7 linked regions of the Homo sapiens genome follow. The protein of the gene in region 3 purifies or fractionates together with the protein of the main gene of each other region. This does not show direct contact. Each region holds a gene or a part of one and is shown on either strand. Other genes may lie near its edges.

Region 1 (4,228 bases), on a different chromosome or scaffold from region 3:
CAATCAATCAACAGAAATGTATTCTAATACTATAATCATTTCCTTCCTATGATGTAACTAAAACTCAGTTGCCTTCTAATTCAATCACTCTTTAATACTGAATTCACTACCAGGAGTGGTGGCTCACACCTGTAATCTCAGCACTTTGGGAGGCTGAGGTAGGAGGACTGCTTGAGGCCAGGCATTAGAGACCAGCCTGAGCAACATGGGGAGACCCCCCCGCCGTCTCTTCAAAAAATAAATTAGCAGGGCATGGTGGCCTATGCCTGTAGTCCTAGCTACTCAGGAGGCTGAGGTAGGAGGACTGCTTGAGACCAGAAGTTGAGACTACAGTGATCCATGATCATGTCACTGTCATACAGCCTGGGGAATAAAGTGAGATCCTGCCTCAAAAAAGAAAAAAAAAATGCTGAATTTACTATATATATTTTATGCTAGTAAGAGAATAAAAAACATGTACATACGCCACCCAGTAGTTCCTTTTAGCTCAAACCCAATTACTGGTTCTACTCAAGTCATCTTCAGGATTGGCAAGGATCTCCACTTTGGAATAATCTTCTCCTGGCCCCAGCTGCCTTACACAACTTTAGAATTTAAACATAGATATGTAGGCAAAAAAAAAAAAAAAAAAAAAAAAAAAAAAAAAAAAAGGTTTCCCAAAAATATTCATGCCTTAATCCCTGGAATCTGTGAATATGTTAGGTTACAAAGGAAAACTGAAGTTGTACATGGAATTAAGGTTGCTTATCAGCCTAATATAAGGCTAACCTTAAAATAGGGAGATTATCCTAGATTATCTGTTATCACCGTGGCCCAATATGGTAACAACTGTCTTCAAAAGTGGAAGAGGGAGGCAGAAGAGTCAGAGGAAGAGGTTCCCATAGAAGAAAGGCAAAGACACAGAGAGATACAATGTTGCTGGTTTTGAAGACAGAGGCTGAGAGTGGCCTCTAGAAACTAAAAAGCAAGAAAAGATTGTCCTCTAAGCCTCCAAATGGAAATGCAGCCCTGTTGACATCTTAATTTTAGCCCAGTGACATCCATTTTGGACTTCAGACCTCCAGAACCGTTAAGATAATAAACTTAATGTTATTTCAAACAACTAAGTTTGCAGTAATTTGTTATAGCAGCAATAGGAAACGAATACAACAGAGGTTCCCAGTATAGAATCCTGGAGAAGTCCTTCTAAGGCAGTAGCAGCTTGTGATAGTAGAACTGGGATTTGAACCTAGGCATTCTGGCTTCAGGCTTCACGGACTGTGCTCTAAACCACCATACTAGATTGCCTCTCCAGGGTGGGCTGTATGTAGGACAAGTTCAAGGCCAGAAAAACATGCATGCCTAGTAACACTATAATAAATTCTTGACACTAGAGCAGAGTACGAGTCTGAGGTGGAGGGAGTCATGGCAGGACAAGCGTTTAAGTTTCTTCCACTCTTTGACCGAGTATTGGTTGAAAGGAGTGCTGTTGAAACTGTAACCAAAGGAGGCATTATGCTTCCAGAAAAATCTCAAGGAAAAGTATTGCAAGCAACAGTAGTCGCTGTTGGATCGGGTTCTAAAGGAAAGGGTGGAGAGATTCAACCAGTTCGTGTGAAAGTTGGAGATAAAGTTCTTCTCCCATAACATGGAGGCACCAAAGTAGTTCTAGATGACAAGGATTATTTCCTATTTAGAGATGGTGACGTTCTTGGAAAGTACGTAAACTGAAATAAGTCACTATTGAAATGGCATCAACATGAAGCTGCCCATTCCACCGAAGTTCTGAAATCTTTCATCATGTAAATAATTTCCATATTTCTCTTTTATAATAAACTAAATAACTAATGAAAAAAATAAAATAAATTCTTCTATTGTGCTTTCTCATCAGTGAATATTCTTTCTAGCCTGTCTAACAAATTCATTTTCATTCTTAAGATGAAATGTTTTTTCTGTTGCTTTAGTGATATCTTCTTAAGCATCTGTCTTTTCATCTTTAAAAGGGGAAATGAGTACTAACTCAAGAACTGTTAGGAGGATTAACTAATGCATGCCATGTGTTCTGCACAATGTATGGCATATCATAGTACCTACACAATAGATGTAATAGGTCAGGCATGGTGGCTCATGCCTGTAATCCCAACACTTCTGGAGGCCGAGGCAGCGATCACTGAGGTCAGGAGTTCGAGACCAGTCTGGTCAACATGGTAAAACCCCGTCTCTACTAAAAATACAAAAATTAGTTTGGTGTTGTGGTGCACACCTGTAATCCAGCTACTCGGGAGGCTGAGGCAGGAGAACTGCTTGAGGTAGAGGTTGCAATGAGCCAAGGTCTTGCCACTGCACTCCAGCCTGAACAACAGAGTGAGATTCCTACTCAAAAAAAAAAAAAAAAAAAAAAAAAGATGGCTGGACATGGTAGCTCACGCCTGTAATCCCAGCACTTTGGGAGGCCAAGGCGGGCAGATCACCTGAGGTCGGGAGATTGAGACCAGTCTGACCGACATGGAAAAACCCCGTCTCTATTAAAAATACAAAATTAGCCAGGCGTGGTGGCACATGCCTGTAATCCCAGCTACTCGGGAGGCTGAGGCAGGAGAATCGCTTGAACCCAGGAGGAGGAGGTTGCGGTGAGCCGAGATCGCGCCGTTGCACTCCATCCTGGGCAACAAGAGTGAAACTCCATCTCAAAAAAAAAAAAAAAGATGTAATATAAAAATTACCAGTATCACCATATAAGGGAGAATTTGGATCTATCAGAGAGCTCCAAATAGCACAATTACATCAAACAGCAAAAAATATTAGTAAGTTGGATTTGGGTTTTTTAAAATTTATTTTATTTTTTTGTATTTTTAGTGGAGATGGGGTTTCACCGTGTTAGCCAGGATGGTCTCGACCTCCTGACCTCGTGATCCGCCTGCCTCGGCCTCCCAAAGTGCTGGGATTACAGGCGTGAGCCACCACGCCCAGCCTGGATTTGGGTTTAAAATAGAAATAAGCATTCCCTCCAACTTTTAATTTTCAACATTTATTTTTACTTATTTTTCCTTTGGAGATGGCATCACAGCTCATTAATTTTCAACATTTATAAGTGCGCACACACAAAAAGTTCTAATGCACACACACAGTTCACCTTCTAGGTTCACTGTTAACTTCTTGCCACATTTGCTTTCTCTCTCTACACACACACACACACACACACCCCACTGCTTTTTAAAAATGAACCTTTTGATGAGAGTTAGCTGCAGACAAAGTATCACTCCATTCCTAAATACTTCACTATAACAGCATCTCTCCAACCTTCTGTTTTTCATGTCATGGAATTTTTTGAATATCCTATTCTTCAACAACTTTCATCCAAAGAGTTCAGGATCTATTAATTGTCCTTGCCTAAATCAATGATTATGCTAGAATCTGTAAAACAGTCCTTTTCTATCATTCTTTCTACCTTAGCAGGCATTCTTCTATAAACAAGAGCTTTTTTCCTTTCTCTGCTTCTTTGACTAGGAAATCACAATTCTTAAAAACTGTGTATCATAATCTATCGCTTTGTTGCTTTTTGATGCTCAAAGTGTCTGGACTTGGCCATTAAGACCCTTTAAGCCAGCTTCTGAAGCCTTCTGATAGGACCCCATCAGTCTGTAAGCCCCACATGAGAAACTCCGTGGAAGCATTAGGTAGCTCTAAAAATGGTGTTCTTCCTTCAACTTAAGTATTCAGACATGAAATGACCATTTTCCAGTAACGCTGGGGTAGTCACCTCCACAGCTGCTGAGGTAGCTAGCACAGTACAACTGTTCTGTGGTTTTCCCGCCAGACAAAATAGCCTTACCTTGAACACGTCAGGCTTGCTCCTGCCTCAGGACTGCAGCAACAGCTGTTTGCCTGGAGTATTCTTTCCCTGCATGTCTGCATGAGTGACTCCTTCCTGTTATTCAGGTCTCAGCATATGTCACCTGCCCAGAGAGAGTCTCTCCACTGCCAATCAACGTGAAAAAGCCCCTGTCATTTCCTATCACATCCTTACCCTGTTTCACTAATTTAAAAATTAAAAATGATGGCCAGGTGCAGTGGCTCATTCTTGTAATCCCAGCATGTTGAGAAGCCAGGGCAGGCAGATTGCTTGAGCCCAGGGGTTCGAGACCAGCCTGGGCAACAAGGCTAAACCCCACCTCTACAAAAAAATGCAAAAATGAGGCAGGTGTGGTAGTGCACGCCTGTAGTCCCAGCTACTTGGGAGGACTGCTTG
Region 2 (3,788 bases), on a different chromosome or scaffold from region 3:
CATCATTCTCGCTCAGCAGCTGTACAGGTAGACAGTGAAAACTAGCATCTTTTTGATTATAGACTGTTGGCTTTCTGGGGAACAGCCATGTTCCATGTTGGATCAGCTTATTGATTAGGGGAAGAGACCTAGCGTTCATTAAAAACTTACCCAGCAACTTTGCTGTATCACAGAAGTCCTATACAGCATAAAATAGTACTGGGTCCATCTTAGACGAAGCAGTGAGACCTGTTCAAGGTCATCCAGCTAGTAAAATGGTCCAACTTGACTTGCCTTACTCCAGAACTTTTTGCTTATTCCATTATTTCCTGTTAGCTCTTCATGGAACCACTTCCTGTGTGTCTGGTGGCTCACTGTGCACTCACACACCCCCCCCCCCAACTAATGGCAGGTGCAGATTGGCAGGTGCAGATTACAAGTATTGCAGTGCAGTTGCTTTTAGCAATTTATCTTCCTTTTTCCTCTGAGCTGGATTTAATTTACTTCAGTTCCCCACATTTGGCATTGTAGCTTTTACCTTTAGAATGGCTAATTGGCTACTGCAATATTTCTTTCATATGTGAATTATAAAAGTGCCCTTAATGGATGTTTCTTTTCATACAGTTAGGTGTTTATTGTATCATTGTGGGACTGGGAAGGCCAGGCTAGCTGCAGGTTATCACAGGCCCCTTGCAGTACTTCACTGGACCCCATGAGTCCTTTTCAGTGGATCATCTCCTGCCCATCTTCACTTCTCCAGAGTGGTCTCGCCATCTTTACTGGGTGTCCCAGAACGTGCCTGTTCAGAGCGATGAGACCCAGGGCAGAAAGAGTCCGGTTACCCTTTCCCGGTCTCCTCACCCTAACTCCCTGGATCTTATCACAGTAAATGATCAGAAGTAGAAATTCTCATGTTAGCTGAAATTCTCTTCATGTTTTTTCTTGTGTTCAGACCTCGTTATTTTTAAGCATCCCTGTTACTGATGATAACCACTGTGAACTCAGTGATATGATTCCCTAGTTTGTAAGACACTGCACCCCCTCTGTATTTAAAAGTTATTTCCCATTGGAGGTATCATCAAAGACTTCTCTCCCTTTCTAAAATCTTGGTGTTAGCAGCTAGAAGAGAGACTGCCAGTTTCCCCCGTCAGCCCTACTTTATGACTTAATGCATGGCACCACTTGTGCAGCTGACGCCTGGTCGGGCCACACTTTCCATTATGAACATGCTCTTTCCTGACTTCCCTCACATTCGTTGAAGTCCAGTCCCAGCTCAGTTGCTGGCCGCAGCTGCTCGTATTGTAGAAAGTGGCATGAATAAAAAAGAAGGGCTTCTGACATTGGGGTGAAACTTTGTCACTGAAGAGATCTTTTCAATCCAAGAAGAGGACCCCAGCCAGCTTCACCGAAGCTGGAAAAAGCTGCAACCTTCTTTTGCCCCTGTTGAGATATTGGAACCCCCACTGGTTGGCTTCCCTCTGCCCTTCAGCTGCCCACCTGAGATTTCTCACCTAGGCAGAGCCACAGCACAGCACAGAGAAACTCAGTTTCCAGGGACTTTGGCAGGGATGTTGGTGCTGTGGGAGGATTCAGACCCCATCTCAGCCACTTGCTAGCTCTGTACATCTGGTCATATTACCCCACTTCTCTCAATCTGTTCTTGCATCTGTAAAATGGGGTAGTGTTACCACCTTGGTGGGCTTTTAATGAAGATTATATGAATTAAATGCCCGCTGTATTGCCAACAAAGAATCCAGCATGGTGTTCAGTGAGGAATACTGTGCATGGCTACAGTTTAACTCCTGTGAAATAAATAGATAGATGCTGGAGGCAGGGAGGTGCTTCCTCCGCGCCCCCATGATGTTTCTGTGGTTTCACTTTCCCATGCTGGGCACTGCCCTCCCTAGACAAGACCTGTCTGTGGACTCTTTCCAGCGCAGCTGTTTAGCCAGACGCTGGCCCCGTCTGCAGCCGTCACAGGCCCTCTGTCTGTCTGCTGGTCATGTCATGCTCTCCTCAAGGTGCCGTCCTGGTCCTGCTGTTCATATTGTTTTGTTCTTTCCCACCAGGAAGCATCTCGAAGAACAGCCCTGCCACACTCTTTGAAGTTCCTGACACATGGTAACCAAGACCTGAGGGCAGCAAACCGCTGGTGCTGTCGCTGTGAGCAAGAGCCGGCTGGCACATTTGGAAGCCGCACTGTATTTAACTTAATCAAATGTGGTATGGGAGGGGTTGGAAACCAAGTTGTCTCCTGGGGGGGAGAAAACAGGTTTTATTTTTGTGGCTGTGGTTTTTTCCCCTTTTTAATCTAACTGCCTGTTGACATTGACACTCATCACGGTTGTAGGCTGTCATGAATGTGTACGTGCTTAACCAGTGAATTCCGTGTTGCTCTTGTGAGGCCTTTCCTGTCATGACCCAGTGTGCTTAAGAACCTGCCTGATGGGGAGTGTCGGCTGTGAAATCTGCAAAAAGAGCTGACATTCCAGCTGCTGTGATCATGAATTTGGGGGTGTACTGTCCTGCCTGTGCATCTTCTCGCACTGAGATTTTGAGGCAGTTGCAGCCCTCGGTTAGTCTCCCAGTGGAAAAATCGGTTGTGCCTCCCTGCTTCCCACCATAGCTGCCTGAAAACATGACGCTCTCAAGCTTGTCCTTCCTTCAGGAAGATGTCCACTCATGCCCACCCATGAGAGGGCTTGCCGTATGCCCTGGCCTTTGGGCATATTTATGTAGAGTTCCTTTCTCCTAAGACGTGAGTTTCTCATGGGGGATGTACGAGTAAAAAGGTTAACTTCTGTTCTTATGCGTGGCGCTGTGTTCACTTTCCAGAGTCTCTGTTCGTTTGTTTGGATGGCGGTCTCGGGGTACGGCAGCGTGTGTGCGTACGTGTCTGTGTGTGTGTGTGTGTGTGTGTGTGTGTGTGTGTGTGTGTGTGTGTGAAATCGTGCAAATCTACAACATGTCCCAGCCCATTCTCCGTTGAAACAGATCACAGCAACGACAAACGCTCATGGCGCTGCTTTGCTCCACCCGCTTCAGATAGATCATTGTTAGATATTTCACATTTTTGTATGGTGGAAATAAAAATGAAAAATGTATTTCCAAAAGATGAAAATTAAAAACATTTTCATAGGACTCTGGTTTTCTCCTCTCTTTTTTTTTAATAAGTGAATGATGTTTTCGCTCTCTAGTAATACACAGATAAATTTCACACTCCTAAAAAAATCTGCTAAGCCACTAAGGCTGATGTTCATGGATTTTTTTCTTCTTCTTTTTACCCCTAACTGCTATACCTGCCACGATGGATCGGCTCCTCAGTACCGAGCTGAGCCCTGGTGGTAAGTGGCCTTGTAGGAGGGTGGGAGGAATGAGGACCCTTAGCACTCACACTGGAATCCCAGGGTGTTATGCAGATTCCGATTTGTAAGACAGTTTCCCTAATCAAGAGCCTCTGTCACACCTGTAAGCTGAGACGGGAGGATCACTTGAGCCCAGGAGTTCAAGACCAGCATGGACAACGCAGTGAGACCCTGTCTTTAAAAAAAAAAAAAAAAAAATTTTTTTTTTTTTTTTTTTTAAAGCATGTTAACTTCTCTTCCCCCTTCCTGCTCCTCTCCCTTCCTACAAAACTCCCTGGAGTTTTGTAGCCACAAAGTTAGAAACCCAGGCTTGGCAGGAAGGACTGCCCACCCCTCCTAGAGTAGTCAGCACACACGGCTCAGTGGAAAGTGTGAAGGTAGGATGGAGACAGACAGTAAAGGAGGGTGTATGCAGGAATGTGTAGAGAGGGCTGCCGGACTGCC
Region 3 (4,228 bases):
TCACATGACAGTATTTCCCCCAAATACACCCATTATTAGACATAGACTTGAAAACTGGAGAAATCACTAATCCAAAGTAATAAGATTTCAATCCAATTTCACTATTTAAAAATTTCAAACTAAAAGGCTAAAAGCAATTAATACCATTTGGGATATTATGGTAATAATGTAGAAAATGCTTTCAGTTGTTACACTTCTGTTTTCTAGAGACTTTATGAATATTAGAAGACGGTTCCAAGGGAAAACAGTACTGATTCCTTTTTTTTTTTTTTTTTTTTTGAGACAGATTCTCACTATGTTGCCCAGGCTGGAGTCCAGTGGTGCGATCTCGGCTCACTGCAACCTCCGCCTCCTGGGTTCAAGCAATTCTCCTGCCTCAGCTTCCCAAGTAGCTGGGACTACAGGCACCCGCCACCACACCCAGCTAATTTTTGTATTTTTAGTAGAGATGGGGTTTCACCATGTTGGCCAGGCTGGTCTTGAACTCCTGACCTCAGGTGATCCACCCGCCTTGGCCTCCCAAAGTGCTGAGATTACAGGCGTGAGCCACCACACTCGTCCCAAACAGTACTGATTTCAAAGGGAATAAGTCGGTAATTTATGAAGCCAAGCTACTCAGCATGCATCTTTTGCTCTCATTGGGCTGTTACCTTTCAAATCACACAAAAATACCCTGTTCATTTCAGTTTCAATGCTTTTATCCATTCTCCTTGCACGAGGTGCCTTTCTCTTCCTTCTTGGTCTCACCAAATCATATACTCTTGACTTAAGTCCATCATAGATCATTCCCATCTCCCCCTCCATTCTTTACTGATGCTCTGTCCCTTTGAGTTCCTACACCACTTATTGCTGGATTTACACATTTGTAATCTGATGTTATTTGCTCATTTTTGTCCCTTGAACAGATAAGCTCCTCAGCAAAAGAATCCTCCTAATAAGGCCGGGTGTGGTGGCTCATACCTGTAATCCCAGCACTTTGGGAGGCGAGGCGGGCGGATCATGAGGTCGAGATCAAGACCATCCTGGCCAGTGTGGTGAAACCCTGTCTCTACTAAAAATAGAAAAATTAGCTGGGCATGGTGGCATGCACCTGTAGTCCCAGCTACTTGGGAGGCTGAGGCAGGAGAATCACTTGAACCTGGGAGATGGAGGTTGCAGTGAGCCGAAATCATGCCACTGCACTCCAGCCTGGCGACAGAGCGAGGTTCCATCTCAAAAAAAAAAAAAAAGATTCCTCCTAATACTTCAGAAACCACACACAGCTTAGCATAACACAATAACACAGAGCACAGACTAAGTGCTCAAGAAGTTCTTGCTGCTGGGTGATAAATAGGAAAGAATCAAATAACCTTCTGGCTTTCTTAGCTAGATCTCCACTATTTCTGGTGCATATCATTTAAATGACTTTCAAGAAGCTAAAATTTTAACTTAGCCATGCTGAAAATATATACGGCCACCAAGGAAATGAAATCTCATAAAACTTGAGCTCTGGTATCTTATCACAAAAAAGGCTAAACAAGAAATTATCATTGTTACACAACACATTTTTAGATTGTGGACCCCACTTCTACCTTATAAAATGTATGTAAGCAATTTTATTTACAGCAGTCTTATCACAGTGCCAAATTATCCCAGAACCATGGTTTTCAAGGCTTTCTTTTAATAGTAGAATTTTTTTTTATTTCTTCTTCTTCTTTTTTTTTTTAAACAAACAAAAGGCTAGGTGGAATTCTACCATACAGAAAAAAGGAGAGCTGATCTTGCTAACGTGGAGGGAGGGGCTTGTAGTTCTGCCTGCCCTGTCCCCAGTCCCTAATTGCAGTGACCCCTTAAGGCATCTCTGAGCACCATCAGCAATGAGAAGCACTCAGAATAATCAGCAAACTGCCATGAATAGAAAAATACTTCATTAATTATTTTTTAATTTCAATATCATTATAATATAAAATTAAAACTTACCCATTTCTACTGAACACTCTTAGCCATGCTTTGAGGTTTGGTCCTAACAAACATAAGCAAGGCACAGTAGTAAAAGTAGACAAAATAACTGCAAATAAAAATGTTTCCAATGCCAACCTAGAAAAAAAAAAAGATTACTTTTTAAAAAAGTGTTAAAGGTAAACATACACATACATAATCTTTATTATATAAATAAAATGTGAAATATCTTCCTATGCTTTACTTTGAAAGGTAACATGAATGCCACCAAAATGATGACTATAAATAATTTTACCACCAACATGTAGCTTTAAAAAACAATCTAGCAAGTATTTCGCTTTAATGATAGATTTCAGAAGTGTTAAAGACCCTAGGATCCATGCTGAGACTTTCACTGCAAACACAAACAAACAAACAAAATCCATTTCTAGATAGTTAGCTTTCTGCTCAATAGTCTCTCTGGAACTTTCTCTACAACTAGTGGTTCAATACACTATTGAACCACTATTGAACCACTATTGAATACTAGTTGTAGTGGTTCTCTACAACTAGTGGTTAACATATATTGGAAACACCTGGAGAGCTGGATAAACTAAAGATTGGTGGGGGCTCTACCCCTAGAGTTTCTGACTGAAGCTTGAGTATTTGCATTTTGATAAAATGCTGATGCTGCTGGTTTGAAAACCACATTTTGAGAACCACTGTGCCAGACACATTCATTCTGCTTTAAAATGGATTAGACAGGAACCACCATTTTCCATTACAAAGGTCTTGTTCTCTCCCATCTAGAAAAGAATAACCTGTCAGTTTAGTGTGTGTACGTAAAACTATGTATAAATATATATATATATATAAAATGGTATACTTAGCAACACAAATATATGTGTGTGTATATGTATATGTATCTCATCACTCATTTCACCATGATCATTAATCACTGCTAAACTGAAGCTTCTCAAACTATGATAAACATTATGTAAGAAACATTCATGAATTTTGTTTCTAAGAATTTGAAATTTGTCAGTTCAGAAAAAGTGTTAAATTTTACCTTTAAACTATAAACACCAGCTTATTCAGTATTTGAATACAGGAATCTATTGACTTTTGTTAAGAAAAACTCCATTCAAGTACTTTAGAATCACATTTATAAGAACTGATATGCTAATTATAACTTACACATATAATCATAGTAAGTTCTTTCAGAGGTTCTAAGGGCCAAATACTTATTGGTATAGTATAGTTTCTCTACTCTCCCTTCTCTCAACATGCAATTGGATACTAGAAGGCTAGGTAACAAGAGTATTTAATAAATTAAGTTATTCTGCTGTTTTTTTTAAAAAAGAATAACACTGCTAATGATGTTGGTGTCCTTACTTGATCTATTAATGATGCACATCATGGTTTTTCTCTAGTTGCTAAGAATTAGCACACAGTTTGGTAAATGAATGTTTTAAAATATAAATTTAGGGTAAAAATTTCAAACTTACTCTATCAGTGGTGCTCCATACAGAACAAAAATTACATGAAAGGAGAAACAAGACATAAGAAAGTAGATACAGCATTTCAAAAATCCAGTTACCTAAAAGAGAAATGAATAACCTGAAGATTCAAGATAATGCTTAAAGGACAATAAATTCTTCCATTTCATCTACAAACACAACTTGTTCCCATAATGTGTAAAACAGTTCAAATGTTCTTGGGTATACTCAAATCAGATCACATGTCCTGTACCGTCACATACACAGCCTTCGATACAGACTAAAAAAGCCTAAAAGGCAAATACCACCTTCCGCCCATATTCTACCCATCCGACCTACATGAGTCGAAAAGAGGTTCTGTTTCCATGGTAATATAGAGCTATGTCATTAATCAATATTTATCAAATACTGATTGACATCAGAGAGCTAGGATACAAAAAATACAGTATTATGCGATGATAGAGGAAATATCTGCAGAAAATAACAATTTTTTTCATTTTAAAACAAAATTCCTGGGAAAACTGCACTGAAAAAGCAAAATACTAAATAATTCTTGAAATCACACTCATATTACACAACCCGTATGAAAAAAGACCTGAACATCTACAAAGAAACATGAGATCTTCTTGATTTGGAGCTTAAGAATATATAAACATAACACATACATTCAGCTTTTCCAATCATAGGCAGTAAATGACCTAACAGAGCTTATACATGGTAGAAAATAATGTTAAGTGTGGACATTATTAGTAATAGCCAAGTGAATATCTACTGCAGTGAATATTCTGGAAAATTGATTCTAATATCTGAAA
Region 4 (4,228 bases), on a different chromosome or scaffold from region 3:
TTGGTCATGGGCCTCTGACAGACCTAGAGATGACAGTCTCACACAGTAATTTGGAACAAGCTGCTCTCAGCTGCCACAGTGGCTCCCACTGAGACTGCGGCATCCAGCTCCATAGGGCTGTGCCTTCCTCACCACCCTGGCCAGGTGGCAGGAATCGTCCCTCGGTTGTGCCCCTCCCTCACGTTGGGCCTCTTCTGTCCCCTCCCCAGGGCCCCGGCCGCCTTGCTCCCAGCAGCTGTCTCTGGGGTCTCTCTGCCTTTGCTAATCCCTCTCCTCTGCAACTTCCAGGCTGCGAGGGGAAGGGACCATGTCTGACAGTCATACCTGTCATTTTATCCCCAGCACCTGGCTGATGACTTGTGCACGGTGCCATGTGTCAACCCTTCCTGAGACCCTGAGAAGGAGCCCCTGGCGCTGTTCTGGAATCTCCCTGTGGCTCTAATGTATTAACGTGGTTCCATTTATCTTTGGTTGTTCCAACCTGAAGGACCTCCTACTTCTGGCCAGGCCTTGGGTAGAAGAGGAGATACAGAGATGAGAGGAACTGATGGATCCTGGTCTCAAGGAGGCAGACTAGGGTGGTGAGGGGGAGGTGGCACTAGGGTAGGGCCCCAGGTCTGGCATTTGCCAGGTTAGGGAAGCAGAGCAGCTCAGAGCCCAGGGGTGGGCAGGGGCCTGTGTGCTTCTGGTTGGTAACTCACTGCAGGGAAGGCCAGTTGGGCCTGCTGGCTCGGACCTCGTCAGGAGCAAGCAATTGGTGGGAAAGAAATAGTCCCAGTGCTGTTTTGCCTTTATTGCTAAGTTTGAAGTTTTGTAACTCTCTTTGGCATTTTTTGGTCCATTTTTCAGAATTAGATGCAGTTTTCCCCCTGGTTTAGCATTTCCCTGATGCTTTGGATTTTGTATGGCAGCAATGCTGGTCAACATGCCTGCGGAGCTAATACCTGGGGCTTCCAGTGCTCCCCGGACTGCCTGGGCTCAAATCCCACAGCCATCACTCACTGGCTGGGAGACCTGGACCAACTGCGTCCACTCCCTGGGCCTGTGGCCCTCATCTGTGGACTGGGGGTACTGTGAAGATTAAGTGTTAAGACACTAAAGAACCCTGGGAGGGTGGGACATGCGTAAGCACTGGCTCAGCCTCCCACTGTCGTGCCGCTTCTGCCAGACCAGTGCGCCTGCAGATCTAACCCAGAGGCATCAGGAGCAGATGCAGGGGCCACAGGGCAGCAGCCACGATGAACCACCATCTCTTTCCACCGCTTCGTGCCTCGGGCCCCTGGCGTTTCTTTTGTCCTGCCTTCATTGGTTGCTGTGCTCTCACAGGCCTGGATCCAGGCTACCGAGGCTAGGATGAGGCCTGTAACCCCACACTACCATGTGGCAAACAGCCAGAACACCGCAAGAGACGTAAGTCAAGCCACACTGGCTGGGAGCTAATTTTGCATTGTTAAAAAGCAGGATAACACAGAAAATAGAACGGACAGGAAAGCTTTCACATTGTGCAAATGTGAACTGGTGATTAGAAGGTTCATTTCAATCAGTTTGCTTTTGACAATTTACTTGGATCTGGAAGAAACATTTTAAATCTACAAAATTACTGTCAAACCCAATAGGCAGGATTGAAAAGGAGTTAGAAATTATAAACAAATAAACCAACAAAGTCGGGGGTAACAACCCCAACCAAAGATATCAGAAACTGGATGAAGATGGCTTAAAGGCACATTAAAAAAAAATCCAAAAAAACAAAAAAACCCAACTTCTCAAACTGGGCAGAGGCAGCTGATAACCAGCCCAGGGGAAGAGTGTCTGGGGACAGCAGGCTGGCACTCTGGGTGCTGAGGGGAGGAGGCTGAAGACTGGTTAGAAGCTAGGCCATTGGGCACAGCCCCCAGGCCCTGGCTTCCCTGCTGAGTCAGGGGTTGGGGTGGTGGTGGTAAGGCAGCCTTTCCCACAAGTGTAGCCTAGGGGCAAGGGCACACTTCAGCCTGTGTGGGTTGAGTTCTGGCCCAGCTTCCCTCTTGGAGTGGTAGATGCTGCTTCTGGGGGAGCTTCACAAAGAGGGCAAGAGAGGGAAGAATCTGGGTTGCTGTGGGTCCACTTTGGCCCTAGGCCACTCCAGCTTCCTTAGGTGCTAAGATAGCAATTTTCTTTCCTTTTTTTTTTTTTGAGACAGAGTGTCACTCCATCACCCAGGCTGGAGTGCAGTGGTATGATCTCAGCTCACTGCAACCTCCACCTCCCAGGTTCAAGTGATTCTCTTGGCCTCCCCAGTAGCTGGGATTACAGGTGTGTGCCACCATGCCTGAATAATTTTTTTATTTTTTAATAGAGGCAGGGTTTCACCATGTTGGCCAGGCTGGTCTCAAACTCCTGACCTCAAGTGATCCTTCGGCCTTGGCCTCGCAAAGTGCTGGGATTACAGGTGTGAGCCATCGTGCCCGGACAAGATAACACTTTTCAAATTGAAGATGTGAAAAGCCATTTTGGTAAACTGCAAATGCATTAAAAAAGATTCCTATAGTGGGTGGGGTGGTAGCACACATCTGTGGTCCCAGCTACGTAGGAGGCTGAGGTGGGAGGACTGCTTGAGCCCAGGAGATCAAGGCTGCAGCTGCTGTGAGCTATGATCGCACCACTGTAACCCAGCTTGGCTAACAGAGTGAGACCGTGTCTCTATTAAAAAAAAAAAAAAAAAAGATTATCATTGAAGACCATTCAAAGAAGAAAAAGACATTGCACAGAAAGTCTTCACAGGCAGAGCACATGTAATCAGGATCCAGGCTGTTTTATAAAACTATGGTTTCTGCTCCTAGCAACACAGATATGTGTGTGGGTTGGTGTGTGCATGGTAGGTGTGGGCAGGTAGGTGTGCACACACACAAGTTGCTGCCTGAGACAAGGCCCCACCTGGCCCAGGGGCATGCCAAGTGCTACTCTGGGGTCTGGGCAAAGCTGTGGCTCTCCTGAGGGCTTCTCTGGCAGTTGGGGACCCCTAGAGAAAGGCTTCTCTCATGGCCCTGCGGGGCTAGCAGCTCCCAGACTACATATGGGGGAACCTGGTGGTCCTGGCCAACAGCTTCTCCAGATGCCCTTCTGTGTGACTAGCCAGTGCCCTGCAATTCACAGCCTTGGCCCAGCAAGGTGAGGAGTCCAGGCACTGGCTTGGCAGCACCTCACTATTTCTGAGTCTTGGCATTGGGCATCCGCTTTTTTTTTTTTTTTTGAAAAAGAGTTTTGCTCTGTCGCCCAGGCTGGAGTGCAGTGGCGCAATCTCGGCTCACTGCAAGCTCCGCCTCCCGGGTTCAAGCAATTTTCCTGCGTCAGCCTCCCGAGTAGCTGGGACTACAGGCGGCTGCCACCACGCCCGGCTAATTTTTTGTATTTTTAGTAGAGACGGGGTTTCACACTCTTAGCCAGGATGGTCTCAATCTCCTGACCTCGTGATCTGTGTGCCTCGGCCTCCCAAAGTGCTGGGATTACAGGCGTGAGCCACCATGCCCAGCCTACTTTTTTTTTTTTTTAAGAGATGGGGTCTTGCTCTCTCTTCTAGGCTAGAGTACGTGGTATGAACATGGCTCACTGTATCCTCTTGGGTTTAAGTGATCCTCTGCCTCAGCCTCCCAAGCAGCTGGGACTATAGGTATGCAACACCACGCCCAGCTAATCTGCTACTTTTGTTTGTTTATTTATTTGAGACAGGATCTCGCTCTGTTGCCCAGGTTATTTATTTGTTTGTTTGTTTGCGACAGGGTCTCGCTCTGTTGTCCAGGTTGGAGTATAGTGGTACAATCATGATTCATTGCAACCTCAATCTACTGGGCTCAGGTGATCCTCCCACCTCAGCCTCCCAGAGAGCTGGGACTACAGGCATGTGCCACTAAAATTAGCCCAGCTAATTTTTTTTTTTTGACACAAAGTCTTGCTCTGTCACCCAGCCTGGGGTACAGTGGTGTGACCTTGGCTCACTGCAACCTCCACCTCCCAGGTTCAAGTGATTCTCCTGCCGCAGCCTCCTGAGTAACTGTGATTATAGATGCCCCGCCACACGCCTGGCTCATTTTTGTATTTTTAGTAGAGACAGGGTTTCACCATGTTGGTTAGGCTGGGCTCGAACTCCTGACCTCAAGTGATCTGCCTGCCTTGGCCTCCCAAAGGTGCTGGGATTACAGGCGTGAGCCACCATGCCTGGCCTAATTTTTTGTATTTTTTGTAGAGACAGGTTTTG
Region 5 (4,228 bases), on a different chromosome or scaffold from region 3:
TCTTTCCAGACTAGACGAATAATCACTTGTAACTGAGAGGGACCGGACCCGGCTCTTGAGGTTTTGAATGACCTTGTTGGCATTCTGCAGCTGGGCCTTCAGATCTTTGATGTCCTTTCGTAGGACCAAGATGTTTTCTGACTTTCCATATACCCGGAACTCTTCCTGCTTCCCTAGCTGGTTCTCCAAGGGCTTCCTCTCAGAGGAACTAGCCAGTGTTGAGCCCCGGCGTCCCTGCTCAGAGCACAGCCCCTCCATCAGGACCATTTCCTTGAGGCTGTTGTGCTCCTCACACTCTGAAAAAAGACAAAGATGTCTTCCTAAATAAAAGTTGGATGTGCTGTTGTGGCCACTGCCTTTGAGAGGAGGCAGGTTTGGTCATGAGGACAATAATTACTAGGGAAAAAGTTGAAGTAGTACTTTATTCAACCCTGACACTGTACTAGGCATTCAAATACAATATTTCTTATCTTCCTTATACCTACAAGTTAGGTTTCATCACTTTCTATTTTACTGACTGGGAAACCAAAACTTAAAGAGAGGTGGTAAACTAGCTTGTTCTAGATCACTCAAACTAGCACATGGCAGAGCCAGAATTCAAATCCTCCAATGTCCTGTGTTCATTCCACACACACTGGTGTTTCTTAAGACATTAACATGGCCTTATCTATTTAGGATGGCCACAAGAATGTAGGACAAGCTATTACTGCATGCTGAAAGTTTAATGCTCTTTAAATTTTACTATAATTTAAAAGTTTATTGGGTTACAACTGTATGAAAAATAGGCATAGGAAAATAAGGCTTCAAATAAATATATCAGCATGTTAACATCAGTGTATTAGGGCAGTGGTAGTCAGAATGAGAACTAATCCATGGCATTTTACCAGATGCCAGGCACTGTTCTAAAGCATTTTATAAGAATTTACTCATTTAATTGACCTTAGTACCTGATGGGGTAGGTAGTTCCTTTATTACTATTTTAACACATGAAGAAACTGGGACATAGGAAAGTTTTCAAACTGGGATTTGAACCAACCAGTCTGGCCCCAGGATCTTGTCTCTTAACTGCCACACTACACTGCCTCAAGAATGAGAGAGATTGTGTTTTTCTTCTCTTCTGGTTTTCAATGTGGTGGGTGGCCCTATAGTTGTAGTCTTTTTATAATGCAAAACAAAATTATTTTTAATTTATGGCTTGCATGTTTCTAAAACCTTATCTGGTCTCTAAGTAGGCCTTAGTATTTCTATAATAATCAGTTGGATAGAATTTTATATTATTATTGTTATTAGCAGTATGCCAAAAACTAATTGTAGAAATTCAAACTTATACTCAGCCTCATTTTGGGTAAGATTTCTCCTATTAACCTCCTGTCCTCCTCTTCCCCAATACTTGTCAGGTGTGGAATTGGCCAACAGCATCCAAATGTGACAGCTGACTCCAGGGAGGGGTGAGCCCCACACCCTGTGCTCTTACCAGGACTGGTGGTTTCCTCCCGTTCAGCCTCATTCTCGCTTCGGCCACAAGTCTCATAGCCCAGGTCCTGGAGGTCCACCTGGATCTGCTTGCTGTCCTGCTTCACCAAGGATTCACCTGCTTGGGAAGAGAAGCAGGTGTTACAGAATGTCTGAATTTCCCACATATGCCCTCAGCCTCAATGGCACATACCCTAACCTTTTGAGGCACGGAAGGCAGATCCACAGTGGGAGAGAAGCTTCTCTGAACTGGTGGGAGAAGAGATCACCAGCTCCAGGAAGCAGAATTTCTTTCCAAAGGAGGAGCCTGCATTTGCCATTATCTCCCCTTCAGATAACCCAGGCTTTAGTTGGGACCAGATATCTGTAAGTCAGGGATTGTACACTATCATCTCTAGCAGCCCCATTGAAGCTGGCAAGTGCTTTATCCGCAGGGGTTCAATAAATGTTGAATGGAGCTGAACTAATTTAGAGTCCCAAGACCCTAGACCTGTACTGTCCAATAAGGTAGTTAGCAGCCACATATGGCCACTTTATACTACATCAACTAAAATTAAATAAAACCAAATGTCCAAGTTGCACTAGCCACACTTCGTGTGCTCAATAACCACGTTATGTCGGTATAGAACATACAGAACTTATAAGACATATAGGCTAGTTTTCTTTACTAGTAAGTCATAGTTACTTACTAAGCATAACTCTGTATTTCTCCAGCTCGTTAGCCTGAGCAAAGACAGTGGCTTCTGATAGCAGCAGCTTCTCCTGGAGATCTTGATAGCGTTGTTTGCATTGTGACAGCTGGGAGCGCAGGTGCTGGGTGGACCCTGGTAGGCTAAACGCTGACTGAGGCCCAGGGTCACGAGGCTGGGACTGGTTATCCAACTGTGAAAGGGGCCAATACAGGGATCAGGACAGTCTGAGGTCACCCCCATGCAGTGACGACCACCGCCCCTTCTGAACCCTGTGGACTTTACTCAAGTCTGTCACAGCACTTCTCATGCCATTTGGCAGTGACTTGCTTTCCAGATGGAGCTCCTGGAGCGCTGGGATAATGTTTTCTTCATATCTGTATCCACAGCACACAGCACAGCACCAATCAAGTCTACAGAGGAGCTCTCAGGAAATGTTTTCTCAGTGGTCAAAAAGAGACCACTCATCTCCCCTCACATTCTGTCCCATTGATTCTCTCAGAATCCCTGTATTCTCCATTTCACTGAATCTTCAGCATGGCTCCTTCCCTAAAGAGGATCCCAGTAACCCATCTGAAGCCCAGGAACAGACACCTGTGATGAGCTGTGACAAAAAAATGGCAGTGATAAGGGATGTCATTACATACCACTTGTCTGGGCTGCCTCATAACCTGATGCATCCCTATGTTACAGCAGTTACCACATCCTGTTAAAATTACCTGTTTGTGTGCCATCTTTCCCGACAATATTAAGTATCTCAGGGGCAGCCATTGGTTTTATTGCCCCATGCCAATGCCTAGTGTGTTATCTGAAAAATTAAGTACTCAAGAAATATTTATGTTATAAAAGCCTTTCTAAAGGCTGAATGTAGGCAGAATATTACTATTATTGTTTGTGGTACAAAGAGACCCTTCTCTTGGTACCTCCTGATTCATATGGGAGAATGTTTTAAGGTAAACACTGTCATCTCAAGCCCTTCTCCAATTGTTTTTCACTCAATCTAAGCCCACACTTACTTGGTGGGCATCCACTGTGAAGGTAGCCCCAAGGTCAAGGCTCTGGGGTCTGGGGAAAGGCCTCACAGTCACATTCCCCTCCTCTTGGTGTTGGTGCTTCCCAGGGGAACCAACCAGTTCTGTGTTTATTCTTTCAATGGTGCTGGTCAGATGCACAAGGAGCTCTGGAGTAAGTTTACTATTCCCTTCCTTGCTACTCAGCACAAGTTGTTCTTTGAGGAGGTTGATGATATTGTGGGCATTCTTCAGTTTTCCCTGGAGCTTTCTGAACTCAGCCTGAAGGCTACTCTCACTCAGACCCTCTTTGGTTACCACAGTCTCAACCATCACCTCGCCCTTCTCCTTGTCTTCCTCGATCTCCCATCCATCAGACATTGCTTCTCCCATCTGCTCTTTCAGCTCCGCATTCTCAAGGCAAAGGCTCAGCATGGTGTTCCTGCAGGAAACACACTTAATTGAGGGCTAGGTCTGGTCCTCACAACAGTTCCTAATACTACCTCTTACCAACATCTCAGCCCGCAATTAACTCAGACTTACCCCAGAGCATGAAGCAACCTGAGACCTACCACAGCCCCCTAATTTTATATACAAGAAAGCCAAGGCTCAGGAAAAGTAAGAGACTTGCCCAAACTTCCACAGCTTCTTGGTGGCAGCACCATCACTAGAAACCTTGGACTCAAGACATGCAGGCTAGTTTTCTTTACTTGTGCCCCATAGCCTCATATGTTCTAATTTTTAGTAGCCTCTGGAATAAACCAGAGTACTTACACTGTTAAAAAATAAGACCTTTTCTGTAACAAATTTATTGTTATAAATTTTACAGTTCTATTATTTATCATCAGTCAGTTTCAAACCATTGGGACTTAGGAACACAGAATAAATAAATAACACTAATCAGAACTATTAATATAATCAAAATGTACTTAGATAATTGTTTGCTTTATGTCTGGCTCACGTGATAGAGATAACCTTCTTGAGAGCAGGACTGTGTCTGTCCTATTCATCCCATATCCCCAGTACCTACACAAGTGCCTGCCACATAAATCATTC
Region 6 (3,335 bases), on a different chromosome or scaffold from region 3:
CTTAATCCAGATGTATGACTCACCTCTCTAGGCCTACACAGTATTAATTTTCCTTAAGAATGGCAAAGGTCATCTCATCCTTTATAACGTTTTTTGAGAGGAAAAATTCTATCAGTATCTTTAAAGATGCTTTGGGAAGGGAAAGAACACAGCGTTTTTAAATTTTACATTTCAATAAAATCCGAAGTCTCTTGCTTCATGCCGTTTCACTTGAAGAATTTTTAAGCTTGTTTGTTTTATGGACGGAGTCTCGCTCTGTCACCAGGCTGGAGTGCAGTGGCACAATCTCGGCTCACTCCAACTTCTGCCTCCCAGGTTCAAGCGATTCTCCTGCGTCAGCCTCCTGAGTAGCTGGGACTACAGGCACATGCCACCACGCCCAGCTAATTTTTGTATTTTTAATAGAGACGGGGTTTCACTATATTGGCCAGGATGGTCTCGATCTCTTGACCTCGTGATCCTCCTGCCTCAGCCTCCCAAAGTCCTGGGATTACAGGCATGAGCCATGGTGCCGGCCTTTTAAAGCATTTTAAATGGCATTTAGCCAGAGTTTATAATACTAATCCTAATGGTAACACATATACATTCACCTAAGTTGTGTCACAGGTAACGTGTATGTTAAAATATCTGCACTAAGCCCTAGTACATATGGATATGTAGAAAACAATACACACACACATACATACACACACACACACACACACACACACACCTTTATTTAAAATAAGGGAAAGCACCGTCACTCTTGGGGAAAAAGTCCTCACCCCTTTCCTTAGCCACGCATGATACACGAGAGGCTCTGTCCTTGAATGAATGGTCAACAGAGAATTCTCACATAGTAAGGAGTGTTGATTAATAATTAAATAATGACATCCACAAGTCAAACTTGAGCTGTTTTAATCAGATAATTTTACACATAAATTCCTAGTTAGCCAGATTGATTTGGTTATTCTAAATGGCCAAATAAATCTGCAACACACCACAATTATTTCTCCCACACATGATGAATAGCTAATAATTTTAAAAACCTATTGCCATACAGAACCATACTTTCTTACTATGTTATGCCCTGGGGGTTCGCTTCCACATGCCACATTGCTATCATGCTTTTCAATGAATTATGCATTATGCACGTCAGAAAACTTTAAAGAAACAAGCAAAAAAGTATGAAAAACAATAATTCATGTATTTTATTATAAAAGTGTGCTTTATTGTAAGGAAAATTTAAATATAACCAACAATACTGAAAATAATGTACGTGGCATTTATAGCCTTGGTCAAAGTTCTTTATTAAACAGGCGTTTGCTGTTCCATGAATAGTTAACAATTAGTTTATGCAACAAAATAGATAACTTGAAAAAGTGAGTAAGAATACAGAATGATGAACCAGGAATCTGGAGTTCTTTTGTGTTTTTTCTTGTTTAACAGACATGGCTTTTAAAATAAAATCTGAAATATAAAACAAGTCATCTTCATGTAGAGAGCTCTCTTTTCCTACAAGAAGGTTTTGCAAAAATGTTAAACAGTGTTCTAAAAATGTGGCTGAAGTTATACTTTACATACTTTAACTTCTTATATATACATTATCCAATTAACATTCTAACCACATTTTCATATACAAGTGGGACCATAAACATTCTCTAGTAAGACTACACTAGCACAGAGTAATTTTACCCATGTATATATATTCATTTGAAACCTGTTTCCCAAAATGAAATCACTCATTTAAAAGCAAACAACTGGTTAGAATTAATGTCTCTAGACACTGGGTCATGGGGCCTAGAAATCATGTAAGAGTATATTGCTTTGGTTGAATATAATTAAATTCATCTTATGTGGCAGCATACTGAGCATATCAATGAACAATGAAAATCTAGTACATCTGAGTTCTTTCTGCACTAATTTCAACTATGAGTCTACATTAAAGCAATGGCAAGGCCTAATGGTATATATGGTAAGGTCAGAAATTCATTTTGTCTTTATATAGGGTTATGCTCATAAAAATTTGTTTCTATTCCTCTAGAGGATGTTTTTAAGAATTAAAAAAACCAAACAAACCCATATTGGCTGCTGATCAATGAGATTGTGGGTTGGCAACCATCCTAAGAAAGAACGGAAACCCAAGGGAACAGATGTCTACATAGGACTGTATTATGCAGGCCTAGTGAAGAACAAAGAAATAAACTGTGGGCATGCTGATAAGGATCCCACATTATTTTTGGGATAGGAGAGATTTTTTAGGTGTAAAATCTTAAAGAATACAAAAAATGTCGGATCTTAAGTTTAAATCACTTTTTAAAAAAACAAAACTTTGTGACATTAAATGTCAAGATCAAATTTTTAAAGACATAGAATACAGAGAATTGCAAAATAAAAAAAAGCAGATATATGCTTGATGAGGGAAAAATGCATTAATGATCTCTCATCTAAAACACTGTTTTCCTTATTATCATAATGACTAAATTGCCTGTCCATAAAACCACTGGAATATGTATGTTACTGACATTATGCCAACAAAGTCAAAATGTACTTTATTGCAAAAATATAAAAAGTTTTAAAACTGCATATGATATTTTATACCATTTCACCAATAGGCCAAGGCCAGCACATAACTTATCAAGCTAGAAAACTTTAAAACAAAAATGATTAAAATTTTACTGTGTTTAATGAGTTATAAAAAAAAGTGATGCCATGCTGTGTAGCATGTTTAATTGCCAAGTGCCCTCTTACATGGGGATAGTCACTAATATGATTATCAGTCTGAATAAGTAAAACACATATAGCCTATGATAACATCCTTTAATTATCTTCTTAAACACAGATACTTTCTATATATTACAATCATTTTAATAAACCTTTCAGTCATAATTTTGTGGAGTACAAAGTCATTTTATCAGTATGTTGATTTTTTTATGAACTACTCTTTAGAAAGTGATGTTAAAGCCTATTGACTATTAAATCACTACTGTTTATTGATACGTTGTAAATGTAAAAAAAGGAAAAAACCTGAAATCACAGAAAATGCTTGGCATCTACACAAACACATTCTCAGTGGACTAACCACTACTGTGTAATTTTGTCACTACAGGTCTTGCTCCATACTTTTGCTTCATGCAGTGGGTTCAACAATATCCATGTTCGTTCCAAACAGGGCAACTAACTGTTCTTCATAGGTAGCGATGTTCCTTTTCATAATTTCCATGCAAGGTCCCAGAAGCCTTTCAAATGCTTGCACATCCATTGCTGAGAAAAGAGAAGATTTTTTTTTAAATAACATTCTTTGCAAATCTGCAGAATTTCTAAGTCATTTACAATACCGACTCCATATATATCAA
Region 7 (4,228 bases), on a different chromosome or scaffold from region 3:
TCAAATTCATCATAGTCAAAGTCCACACCGAAGATTTCCTGGGCTTCTTGCAGGGCCCTGTAGGTGGCAGCAAGAGGCAGGTGGCTCAGGTTCAGGTGAGAGGAGAGAAATGCAGCCCTTGCATAGATCCTTTACTTGTCCCAAGGGAACTGAGAGGGTTAGGAGGAAGGTAAACAAAATAACCATATTCACTGTGGACGAAAGGCTTCATTGGCGGATATTTCTGGGCAAACTATTGTATATGGAAGATTAAAAAGCTCATCTTTGGCACCTTCGAGTGACAGTAATCAAATAGCAACAGAGCAGACGGGTCTATGTCTTGCTCAGTGGACCCATCTTCTGCTAAGGCATTACAGTATTCCCTCAGGGCAAAAGCTTTCAAATTTGTAAATTGTGATGCGGGCATTTGTCTTCCAACAAAAATATATTAAGAATGTCAATATATATATAATTGAATAAACATGGAGCTGTAGGCGGAAGAGGAATGCTGGAGCCTTGCCCATGTGGGACTCTACTCCAATCCCACAGTAGTCCTAGAGTGCAGAGACAGCTCCCAGGGCTTCCGGGAGCAGTCTGAAATCACTGCCTGGTAGAGGTTATTTGAGGCAGGGAAGCAAAATGGCTGCAAGCTGGGAATGCCCCATTTTTGGCAAAGGCCTCTGATCTCCTCCTTCCTGACTGGGCCCACTCAATCACTTTATCCCCACCTTGTACCAGACCCCACTCACGCGTCTGTGTATCCAGGAAGCTTTTTCCGCCACTTAGGTTTTTTCAGAGGCTGTCCATCATCATCCACAATGAAGTCGTCAATATCTGGGTAGGAAAAGGATGGGTTGGGGCTCAGAGTCAGGGGCTGAGCCAGGACTAAATTGCTTTGGTTCCTACTATGTGAGTGGCCAGTGAGCAACAGAGAAGGGAAGCTCCTGAAAAGGAACTTCTTTGTGTCAAATGCTGGGGGATGTAGCTAAAGAATGGTTTCCATCCTGTTCCCATGGGCCAGGAAATCCCAATACCCATCCAAACACTGGCTTCCCTGCCCAATATAACATACCTGACTCCTCATCATCTTCTTCCTCCTCCTCTGGAGGAGCCATGGGGGCCTCCATGGCCTCCTGCCCTTCTTCCCCTTCCCCATCCTGGAAGATTTCTTCCGCAATAGCTTCTTTTTCATGTTCCTCCTTGCCATATTCCTCCTCGTCATCGTCCTCGTCATCTGACATTTTTTTGACACGCCGGTACTTTTGCTAGGGGTGGGAAAACCTGCCTTATCAGGATCTGAGGAGTCTGGCATACGGATACCAAATCTCCAGTCTCACTCCCTTCTTCCCACCACAATTACTCTGACCAAGAGAGATGGGAAAGAACATGCCGAGTGATGCTCTTGTAGCCTCAAAGCCCATCCTTGAAACTTGGACAAGACTTTCTCTAACAGGCACCCAGATCTGGGATGCAAATCTAGGCTCCGTAGTACAATGATACCGAACACCGTGCTCTAATGTTCTCCAAACTGTCCTGCGTGTGCCTCCTCACCCACAGACATTGAAATTTCCAGGGCTTTTTCCTTTACCCCCAGGGACAAAAGACAAAGAATGACACTTACTCCTCTTTTGACTTTGACACCCAAATTCTCCTCAATGAGGTCAAAATCATCATCCTCCAGGCGGTCATCAAAAGAGGCTGAAGAAACAAAGTGTTGCCCATGGTGATGGGGTTGCCCTTTTCCACTGCAACCTCCACCCAAGCCTCACTTGAGCCAACGACAGACTACTCACTGCGTTTTCTCTTCTTGTGGCCAACATCATCTTCTGAATCACCAGAGTCACTGCCCTCATCCTCCTCCCCTTCATCTTCATCATCATCGTCATTGATAAAGCCTTTCAAGTTGCCTTGCTCATCCTGATCATCTAGGTTCTCCTCCTCCTCCTCCTCATCTGGAAGACATGCATGTTTGAGGCATGGAGACTGAAAAACAGGCTAGAGGTTCAGGGTCACTTGATTAATGTGATTATCCATTTGCTCTGCACCTAATGACCTGGGTGCCATGTTAACTCTTCTGCCTCATGTAAAGATGCAAAACATAGCCATTGACTTAGAGTAGCAGCATCTGGAAAGAATGTTTTCTTCCCCTACATTCACCATCTGTCTTTGGGCAGGATGATCTTCCCCGTCACTTTGGCTTCTCAAAATCATTACTAGATTATTATAGCCACCAATAACTTTGTTTTACTCAGTTTGTAAACTCAGCAGCTATATTCCTTTTTTTTGCCATAATTCCTTTGATAAAACTTGTACGTCCCTTTACCCCTTTGAAGTCATTTCGTGGTTCTACTCTGTTGACAATTCTAAAGATTGGGCTTGGCCAGAGAAATAGGAAACGAGGTGAATAAATATCAACAATGCTAGGTCTAAAAGCAGAAAGTATTATATACAGACTTATCTACTGATTTATTATCAACCACCCCCCAACTAAAGTAAACTCCACAATAGCTGGATATTTATTGTTTTATATTTCTAGTTCCAGGCCTAGTGCCTGGCATACAGACAGATGCTCAGTTAGTATCTGCTAAGAATGACTGAAAGTTCTCAAGCTGGTACCTCATGTGTGATAACTTCTGTGCTGAGCCTGAGCTTTTCATCAGCAAGAATCCAACTATCCAAAGCTTAGCAATAGTGGGGAGAAGCTTGAGGCTGGGGCCTCCTCACCATCATCCTCCTCTTCCACAAATTTCTTGGTGACTCGGGGTACCACCTCGCCTTCATCATTGTATTCTTCCTCTGACTCCTCAGCCTCGCTTTCCACAAAATCAGACATTGCTGCAGCTTCTCACTCTGCCTGAAGATAACTAGGGAAAGAAAAGAGTGAAGGATAAAAAAACGGACACATGATTGTACAGAGGGCTCTTAAACCTTCCCACAAACAGCCTTTTAGCAACCTGCCACTGCTCTGCCCACTCAACATTCCCACTTGGGGAGAAGAAAAGAAGAATCTGATGGTTCCAACTCTTCCATTATCCATTCCTCCCAGCATTGCTTCTCTCATATGTACTTTTTTTTTTTTTTTTTGAGGTGGCGTCTCACTCTCTCACCCAGGCTGGAGTACAGTGGCGCAATCTCCGTTCACTGCAACCTCCACCTCCTGGGTTCAAGTGATTCTCCTGCCTTAGCCTCCCGAGTAGCTGGGATTATAGGCATGCGCCACCATGCCTGGCTAATTTTTGTACTCTTAGAAGAGATGTGGTTTCAACACGTTGGCCAGGCTGGTCTTGAACTTCTGAACTCAGGTGATCTGCCCACCTTGGCCTCCCAAGGTGCTGGGATTACAGGCGTGAGCCACCGCACCCGGCCTCATACGTACTTTCAAAAAGAAGGCAAAAGCCAGGCTACTCAGGAGGCTGAGGCAGGAGAATCTCTTGAATCCGGAAGGTGGAGGTTGCAGATTGCGCCACTGCATTCCAGCCTGGCGAGAGAGTGAGACTCTGTCTTAAAAAAAAAAGCCATTAGGCCAGGCGTGGTAGCTCACTCCTATAACCCCAGCACTTAGGGAGGCCAAGGCAGGTGGATCACCTGAGGTCAGGAGTTCGAGACCAGCTTGGCCAACATGGTGAAACCCCGTCTCTACTAAAAATACAAAAATTATCCGGGTATGGTGGCAGGTGCCTGTAATCCCAGTTACTCTGGAGGCTTAGGCAGGAGAATGGTTTGACCCCGGGAGGTGGAGGTTGCAGTGAGCTGAGATTGCACCACTGCACTCCAGCCTGGGCAACAAGAGCAAAATCTGCCTCGAAAAAAAAGAAAAAAAAAGAAAAGAAAAAAAGAAAAAGAAGGCAATTATACCAGACTTGTATATGTATCATCTCTCTTCCCCAAAGTTTTACCTCACTTACCATTTGAAGACAGGAATGGGCAAATGAGGAAAGAAACTAATGTAGGGACAATTAAGTGGGGATATGGTGGTAGAGTGAGATTATGTGATCTGCTTCTAGGAGGCTTGGAAACAATAAGTGCCAACTTTATAAAAGGTGCTTTCATATGTTTACATACACTATTCATACTTATTAGCAAAGTCAAAAGCAAAATCTCTTTTCAATAGATTAAACACACAAATACTTCATGAACTTGAGCCAATTTGTGTGAGTACTGGTTGGGAGCATTTGGGTCCAAAAAGGGCCTAGTTTTATCATTTACTCCCCTTGCAGGCAAAAAATCTTGAAAGGCTTCCATGTCCTAC

The links.
Region 1: the proteins of PIGF (region 3) and WDR89 purify together in Homo sapiens (affinity purification with mass spectrometry; one large-scale study listed by BioGRID and IntAct). This does not show direct contact.
Region 2: the proteins of PIGF (region 3) and PARN purify together in Homo sapiens (affinity purification with mass spectrometry; one large-scale study listed by BioGRID and IntAct). This does not show direct contact.
Region 4: the proteins of PIGF (region 3) and PACSIN2 purify together in Homo sapiens (affinity purification with mass spectrometry; one large-scale study listed by BioGRID and IntAct). This does not show direct contact.
Region 5: the proteins of PIGF (region 3) and PDE4DIP purify together in Homo sapiens (co-immunoprecipitation; one large-scale study listed by IntAct). This does not show direct contact.
Region 6: the proteins of PIGF (region 3) and PRKAR2B purify together in Homo sapiens (affinity purification with mass spectrometry; one large-scale study listed by BioGRID and IntAct). This does not show direct contact.
Region 7: the proteins of PIGF (region 3) and SUPT6H purify together in Homo sapiens (affinity purification with mass spectrometry; one large-scale study listed by BioGRID and IntAct). This does not show direct contact.

What each region holds. Positions count from the first base shown.
Region 1 is NC_000014.9:63,600,105-63,604,332, forward strand, and holds part of WDR89 (WD repeat-containing protein 89), read right to left. Parts: intron 4,083-4,228; exon of another isoform or gene 3,895-4,082; coding exon of another isoform or gene 3,812-3,894; intron 2,204-3,811; exon of another isoform or gene 2,074-2,203; intron 1,831-2,073; exon of another isoform or gene 1,367-1,830; intron 1-1,366.
Region 2 is NC_000016.10:14,435,033-14,438,820, reverse strand, and holds the end of PARN (poly(A)-specific ribonuclease PARN), read left to right. Parts: intron 1-2,048; coding exon 2,049-2,104; 3' UTR 2,105-3,120; downstream 3,121-3,788. UniProt on the Homo sapiens protein: 3'-exoribonuclease that has a preference for poly(A) tails of mRNAs, thereby efficiently degrading poly(A) tails.
Region 3 is NC_000002.12:46,610,269-46,614,496, forward strand, and holds part of PIGF (GPI ethanolamine phosphate transferase, stabilizing subunit), read right to left. Parts: intron 3,518-4,228; coding exon 3,426-3,517; intron 2,077-3,425; coding exon 1,960-2,076; intron 1-1,959.
Region 4 is NC_000022.11:42,871,643-42,875,870, forward strand, and holds part of PACSIN2 (protein kinase C and casein kinase substrate in neurons protein 2), read right to left. Parts: intron 3,889-4,228; exon of another isoform or gene 850-3,888; intron 818-849; exon of another isoform or gene 343-817; intron 1-342.
Region 5 is NC_000001.11:149,000,977-149,005,204, reverse strand, and holds part of PDE4DIP (myomegalin), read right to left. Parts: intron 3,615-4,228; coding exon 3,179-3,614; intron 2,356-3,178; coding exon 2,163-2,355; intron 1,595-2,162; coding exon 1,475-1,594; intron 297-1,474; coding exon 1-296. UniProt on the Homo sapiens protein: Functions as an anchor sequestering components of the cAMP-dependent pathway to Golgi and/or centrosomes.
Region 6 is NC_000007.14:107,159,357-107,162,691, reverse strand, and holds the end of PRKAR2B (cAMP-dependent protein kinase type II-beta regulatory subunit), read right to left. Parts: intron 3,244-3,335; coding exon 3,110-3,243; 3' UTR 881-3,109; downstream 1-880. UniProt on the Homo sapiens protein: Regulatory subunit of the cAMP-dependent protein kinases involved in cAMP signaling in cells. Type II regulatory chains mediate membrane association by binding to anchoring proteins, including the MAP2 kinase.
Region 7 is NC_000017.11:28,671,986-28,676,213, reverse strand, and holds part of SUPT6H (transcription elongation factor SPT6), read right to left. Parts: intron 3,458-4,228; exon of another isoform or gene 3,356-3,457; intron 2,844-3,355; 5' UTR 2,813-2,843; coding exon 2,704-2,812; exon of another isoform or gene 2,596-2,703; intron 1,932-2,595; coding exon 1,773-1,931; intron 1,678-1,772; coding exon 1,601-1,677; intron 1,245-1,600; coding exon 1,052-1,244; intron 814-1,051; coding exon 729-813; intron 58-728; coding exon 1-57.